2 linked regions of the Homo sapiens genome follow. The protein of the gene in region 2 purifies or fractionates together with the protein of the main gene of each other region. This does not show direct contact. Each region holds a gene or a part of one and is shown on either strand. Other genes may lie near its edges.

Region 1 (3,654 bases), on a different chromosome or scaffold from region 2:
TGAGTTCTGAGGAAGTCTCCTTAAACTTCCTCCACAAACAATGCTAAGAACTCACTCCTAGTCAGACTGGGGGAAATTCATAACTTTCCTTTCATTTAAGGACTAGAGGTTAGAGGAAAGGTTATTCAATCAATCAACAAATATTTGTGGCTGGGCACAGAGGCTCATGCCTGTAATCTCAGCACTTTAGGAAGCTAAGGTGGGAGGATCGCTTGAGCCCAGGAGTTCAAGACTGGCCTTGGCAACAAACTGAGACCCCATCTCTACAAAAAATCAAAAATAAAATTAGCTGAGCATAGTGGTGTACACCTGTGGTCCCAGCTACACAGAAGGCTGAGGCAGGAGGATCACATGAGCCCAGGAGGTTGCTGCACTCCAGCCTGGTAGACAGATCAAGACCCTGTCTTAACACAAAACAAAACAAACAAATAAAAGAGAACAAATATTTACTAAAATATGCTGCATGCTTTATATCCTACTAAGGGCAGGTGGGAGTGAGAAGGTGAGATAGGGAGAAGACAGACCTAGAAATGAATAAGGAGCTTGGCCTCAAAAGGGAACCAGACATCCAAAAAGGGATGACTGATTTCAGGAATGTGTTAAGAAGCCCCAACAGAGCGTGTGTATAGAGTGCTGTAGGGCACAGTGAGTGGCCACTGCTGGAAAGAGTCAGGGAAAGCTTCACACATGAGCTAACATTTGCACTAGACTGTGGAGGAGGACAGCTGATCAAACAGGGAGGAGCAGTGCAGGCAGGGATTCGCATGGGTGTGAAGGCAGAGGTGCAAGAGTGCACAGGCAGAGGTCGGGACTCAGCGGGATGGCTCACTGCACTCAGCTCATGAGATCCCGGCAGGGAAAAAACAGACTCATGTGTCTTTACCCTGCAACAACTAAAGCACAATCAGAAATAGGAGAGAAAAAGGGGAATATTATCCTGGAAATGATTCTAGATATGGCATACAATCTTGTCAGCATTTGAGTGCAGGTACATCTGAAATGGGGAACTCGTAAGCTTTTAAAACAGCTAGTCTGTGATGCCTCAAGCTTCATCTTTCAGATTAAAACACATACTGCGTTAATTCCAACCTGCTTTGGCAAAAGCTCAAGGGCACTCCTTCCCAGTGACCAGCAGAGAGAAGTGGACATTTCCTCTCCAGTGCCTTAGAAAGTTCAGTGTCTTGTAAAAAAGACTCAGCATCTTCACCTCGGCAATCCTCATCCTGCTCCTCGTTAACGGGTCTCTGAAATCATCGCTGATGTTGGAGTCATTATCACAACTCAACATTTTATTATCAAGATGTCATGAAGTAGGAAGAATAATGGACTTGAAATTTAAAAAAACTAGATACAACTCTTGGTTTTGCCACTAATTTATCTTGGCTACTATGGAACCCTTCCAAAGAAGATGGATTAATGATCTTTAAGGTCCTTTTGGATTCTGAAGACTGATAATCAAAGAGGATCCATGGGATCAGAGGAACGCTTGACACGCTCTCTGACAGAAAAGGTAATGGGTCAACAATCATAATGAGAGAGAAAGTGAGGTTCTAAAGCTCTGACTCTCCAAACAACATCATGAATCATCCCACTGATCGGAAAAGATGTTCTCTTTGACATTTTCTGGGGCAAATACCGTCAGGTTCCCAATGTCTAAGGCTGCCAAGGCTGCCCTTGGGCCTCCTCAGGTTGCCCCGATTCCTTATCAGTATGTTCTGTGTTGCAGGAATGTACTAGTAATTGCCCTCAGTACCTTGGGCCTCCTCAGGTTGCCCCAATTCCTTATCAGTATGTTCTGTGTTGCAGGAATGTACTAATAATTGCCCTCAGTACCTTGTTTCCTACTAAAAAAACAAGGCAGGTTCTCTAAGACCACTTCAAAAACAGTATTTTCTTCAGGATAAATGGACGAGAATTAGGCTCGGTTCTTTCAGTGTCCTATCCTGAAGGCAAGTGATATGGTTTGGATTTTGTCTTCACCCCAATTTCATGGTGAATTATAATCCCCAGTGTTGGAGGAGGGGCCTTGTGGGAGGTGACAGGATCATGGGGGCGGATATCCCCTTTGCTGTTCTCCTGACAGTGAATTCTCATGAGACCCGGTTGTTTAAAAGTGTGTAGCATCTCCCTCCTTCACTCTCTTCCTCCTCTCCAGCCACCTAGGACCTGCCTGCTTCCCCTTCACCTTCCACCATGATTCTAAGTTTCTCTACTTACAGGGATCACTTAAGAAGAAATAAACAGCAACTGCAGTCTAAAAAATAGGTAAGTTTCAAGGATCAAAGAAGCCTGAGGGGGAGGCTAATTCTTTGGATTTAGCTTTATCTTAACTATATTACCTGTCAATGCCTCACCTTCAGTTACAGTAATCTGAAAGCAATAAAACTCAAAGCAGGCCAGATGTCACTCTGTTGTCTAAGATAGGAAAGATCATCTTTCCTGTGTTTCCTGAGGCCTCCCCGGCAATGCTTCCTGTAAAGCCTGTGGAATCATGAGCCAATTAAACCTTTTTTCTTTATAAATTACCCAGTCTCTGGAAGTTCTTTAGAGCAAAGTGAGAATGGACTAATACAGTGAGCAATCTAATCTCTTACCAGAGGGACAGCTTTAACAAATCACGTACAGGGATTTTTGTGCTGGAAGAGACTGTCAATGACCTCTTGATTCATGCTGTAAACCGTGACTCTAGAAAGGGTGACCCTCGCCATGCACACATCCGAGGATACAGCTACTACAGTAACTGACCCACGTGTCTGGACCTCTGCAGGGAAAACTCCAGCAACCAGAGACCCGGGCCTGCCTCCTACTCACCATGGGCATCCCGTTCTCCTTCTTGCGCCATATCCAGTCTGGGTGGGGGTAGCCAACTGACTTGCAATACATAGTGGCATCCTGCCCTTCATTCTTGTTCTCACTCCGTTTATGGCCAGTGATGTCAGGAGCGGCTGTGAGAAAGCGTTAGACGCAGTTACCACGGAAGTCTACTCCAAACAGGATACAAAGGCCCCACCTTCTGGCTCAGAGCCCTGCTTGTAATGTAGTCAGTCTTTATGCTTACTGTCATACTCAGCTTTGATGAAGAGCATTTCAGGTCAGAATAGGGTAAAGGGACCAAACCCATCCTCTACCCCCCACCCGCTAAAGATGCCCAGGCAGATACCAGGGTTACTAATATATGAGGCTCTACTAATGTAGGTGATTCTCCAACCTACTGGAAAAGGATGCAGGTCCAACTGCCCTCAATTAAGCCTACCTTTAAAGAAAATGCAAACAAACACTATTATCTCTTCTATCGGCCCAAGTTTTTTCTTAAAACACCTGCATGAACAACAGTTATGCATCCTGTCAAATATCACACATTCCCTTAAGGAAATGAGATTCTGAGATAAAACAACTACAATCAAGTCCTATTACAAGGTATGTAAAAACAATGAATGCTTGGAGAAGCTACTCAATAAGTAACAATGACCAAGGCTCTCCCAGGAAAGAGGGAATCCAGAAACTGGTCTTCACAAGGAGGAAGAAAGGAATGAACAGGAAATTCAACCAGTGTCCCAAGAGATTTTTTTTTTAATTGAATGACTGATTGAGATGGGGTCTTATTCTATCGTCCAGGCTGGAGCATAGTGGCATGATCGCTGCTCACTGTAGCCT
Region 2 (3,654 bases):
AGGCCTTATTTTCAATCAATTATAAATATGCAATTCTATTAATACATGAAAATTAAAATAACTTCAATTTACTAGTAGTTTTACAAAATAATTTAAAAAATATTTTTACTAGCAAATTCCCCTAACAGGTTTGCAATATAAGCAGTCATCATCTCATTAAAAAGGTAACTTTTCACAAATACATTACTTGAAGTGAGATCATATCTATTTCTACTACCGCTGGAATAAAATAATGAAAATTTACACCCAAAAATAATTTTAATAAATCAAAATTTTTAAAGTGGCTTGTCATTGAAATTTGGAGATGTTTCCACAGCCTCCCCTGATAAATAAATAGAGAAAAAAAATATATCTAAGTAAACAGTCAGCAGGCAGTTAAAGATGAGAAATTATTTGCTTCAAAGAGTATCCAGGACTAGATATACAAATCATAGGATTATCCAAATAGAGATGACAGTACAAAGCCTGTGAACAGGTTATCAAGCAAAGACAGAATAGAGACTATCGGTGATGAAAGAGACATCCCTGGCTAGTACCTGTGTTTCTAGAATGGAAGGCAGAACAGTTGCTAGCAAGAGAAGACATTTCAGAGATGAAGAAGTGGAAAAGAAGCATGCAGGGTCTCAGAGGGAGGGGGTGATCAACATTAAGAAGGGGAGCAAATGTTCGAGAGAATAAGGACTGTAAGAACAGACGTGGTAATTAGATTAATAGTGACCTTCAAGAAAACAGCATCTGCAAAAGTAAAGGGGGTCGAAATGGGAATATCTATATTAAAAAAAATGATTAGGCACAGCTATTACAATTCTATTATGCAAATATTCTGAAATACATTTAGTAAAATATGATACTTTTGTTGCAACATTGGTCTGAAGTGTTAAGCTCTTTTATCTCCCTCTTCCAATCTTAATTTAAGAAACAAAGATACAATCAAGAAGAAAAAAATATAGACTCCAAAAAGCAGGACAGCAAGTACCAGCAATATTCCATCATAATTAACAGGAATGTAAAACTTACTTTTGGATGCATATTATTTTCCTTTACTAAAATTTCTGGTTCTGAAAGAAAACTAATCAGCTCTTTTACTTTCTGTGAAGAAGAGTCTTCAGGAAAATCTTCATCTACTAGCTTGTTCTCCTCAAAATATGTCATGTCCAAAATAGCCTAAAAAAAAAAAAAAAGAAAGATATCTATCAATGACTTAAAATTGAAAAAAAACAATTCTTACAGTCTAACCTTGCACACATAGGTGCTTTATTACACATTTAAATCTTCTAGCTCAGTATGTAAATTTGAGAAGTAGGCAAAATGTCTAGATGTAAATATAATTTGAGAAAGATTTTAAAGAAAACTTCATAGGTATTTCACTAAAGTGCTGAATTAATGATAATCTTTCTTTCCCTCAAAAAAGAAAATAGAGCTTTGTTTTAATTTACAGAATTTAATCATATATAATTATGAAAAAGGTAATTATTATATTCTACTACTTATATAACCCCTGAAAATTTTCTAAATGCCTGCTGTATCAAGTTAAGGTCACTACTTCCAGTTTTGAACCTTCAAAGGATTTGTGTTCCCAAATACAGAGCCAGCGTGAGGGGCGTATGTATCCTGCCACCCAATAGAGGAAGCATACCATCAACATATGCAACTCAAACACTAAGCCCCCAGTATTCCTAATTATTAGAGATGCTGTTAAAGCATATTAAAACTCCCCAATCCTTTTTCCTTTTTTAATCTATTGAACTAAGACTAAGGAAACTGGGTTCTAGGGTCAGTTCTACCACTAATCACTTAACTAACCAAAGACAAGTCAATTTTACCTTTTTTGAGCCTCAGTTTCTTAATTGGCTAAATGATAAATTGGACTAAAATACCTTTCAAAGTTCCTTGTTGGAGTAAAAAATTAATTAACATATGTAAGGTACTAGAAACGTTACCTAGCACCCAGTTAGTGCTTTACTTTCTGTGAACATGAGGAGTAAATGTTATCGTGCGAAAGGCCTAAGCCAGTAAGGAGAGATCATCATATATGATTTCATCATCATATGAAAGGTGATCTGTTGATTCAGAACCATCAATAGGGTTTAAGAGGATCTTAAAATTGAAATCTGTATCTCTAGGTCTTTTGCCTTATTCCAGTAAGTTAAAATGTCTGGAACACTCTCGTGAAAAAAATGAGATGACATAAAACACATACAGACAAGCACAGAGTCTTCTGAACAGAAAGAAAACCAAGCAAAATACCTGCCAAACTTAAAACAGTTCTCTGTGGTTTGTGAGTAGCTGTTAGGCTTACTCATCCATGGTGTTTGAAGGCAGAAGCTATCTTTAGAAATTTCCTAACAGGAAGAACAGCACCAAGCATTTAAATGCTATAAATGGGCACTTTGGAAGCCTAACTAAGTGTACTGTACTTTCTGTAACCACTTCAGTTTTATTATCCCTTAGCAATCCAAAAAGGGCACATGAAAACACTCTATCAACTACAAAGTGCTATATAGATGTTAGTTACCATAATAAAATTACATTTCTTGATGTTAGCATGCCTCAGCAGTGTTTCAGAAAACCAAGAAAAAAAGGTGTTGTCCACACAGCAGCCTGATTTGGAAAGGAAAGTTAAAAAAAAAAGTGGGTGAATAGAAAAATCACATAGATATGCATGACACTAGCAGGGAGAATAATATTGAGAATCCTAGGGAAGGTAAATTTCAGGGGAAAAAAAAAAAGTCAGGGCCCTTATATACTCCCCTGCTCCCTCTGAAACTTTCAAGAGATTGGACATTGCACACACTAGTGTCCTGTTCAATTATCTCTAAAGGAAAACAATTCCGTTATCTGTAAGATTTTCTTCCTGACTTTTCTTATTAACACATCTAATAAATCTTACTTCTTTTCATACTACCTCAAAGTTTTAAGTTTTTGTGTTTTATTCATAGTTTTTTGGACAAAATTAAACACTTGAAATATAGAATAAACTGATTTCATTTTACCTAAAGTTGGAGTCAATCATCTAAATAAACAACCTGCCCTCATAAAATGCCAGAGTCCACCACTCTTTCAGTACCTGTGTGTAAAGTTCTAGAAGATTTGATGGATTTGAACATTCTTTCTCTTCTCCACACAGGAGTTTCAATTTTTCTAATGCTGCAGAGGCCCGAATTAAAAAGTGATCTATAAGAAATAAAAACATGAGGATTACTTCACCTAGTTTCAGAGTGTTATTTAAACAAAAAACACATTATGTATGAAGATGAAATGACAAGATGAAATAATATTATGACATATGGAGAAACAGAATTATAGTAATAATATCTTATCTAAAACATGAAATATCTCATAATGCCTAATCCTAATTAAGTAAATTTATCATGAAAATTTTTCCTACAAAGCAAAATACTGAAAACTTTCTAGAGTCACTCTTGCCATTTCTTAAATGCAGTCTGTATTCTCATTATGCTTCTTTTATGATAATGCACTCAAAATAATTAAACAAATTTAAAACTTACTGGAATATACAAATAATATACATAAATATACAGAAAGGGCTTCCACTGAAAACTTAAGATTTCATAAATGTAGTTGCAAATGTTATTCAAAAGACCATGATTGACCAAATCAAATTCCTTACAAAATGCCAGCATTATGAGCAAT

The links. The genes of interacting proteins can lie anywhere in the genome.
Region 1: the proteins of RIMOC1 (region 2) and NPTN purify together in Homo sapiens (co-immunoprecipitation; one large-scale study listed by IntAct). This does not show direct contact.

What each region holds. Positions count from the first base shown.
Region 1 is NC_000015.10:73,570,851-73,574,504, forward strand, and holds part of NPTN (neuroplastin isoform b precursor), read right to left. Parts: intron 2,946-3,654; coding exon 2,812-2,945; intron 1-2,811. UniProt on the Homo sapiens protein: Probable homophilic and heterophilic cell adhesion molecule involved in long term potentiation at hippocampal excitatory synapses through activation of p38MAPK. May also regulate neurite outgrowth by activating the FGFR1 signaling pathway.
Region 2 is NC_000005.10:41,907,256-41,910,909, reverse strand, and holds part of RIMOC1 (RAB7A-interacting MON1-CCZ1 complex subunit 1), read right to left. Parts: intron 3,175-3,654; coding exon 3,068-3,174; intron 1,165-3,067; coding exon 1,018-1,164; intron 1-1,017. UniProt on the Homo sapiens protein: Plays an important role in the removal of damaged mitochondria via mitophagy by controlling the stability and localization of RAB7A.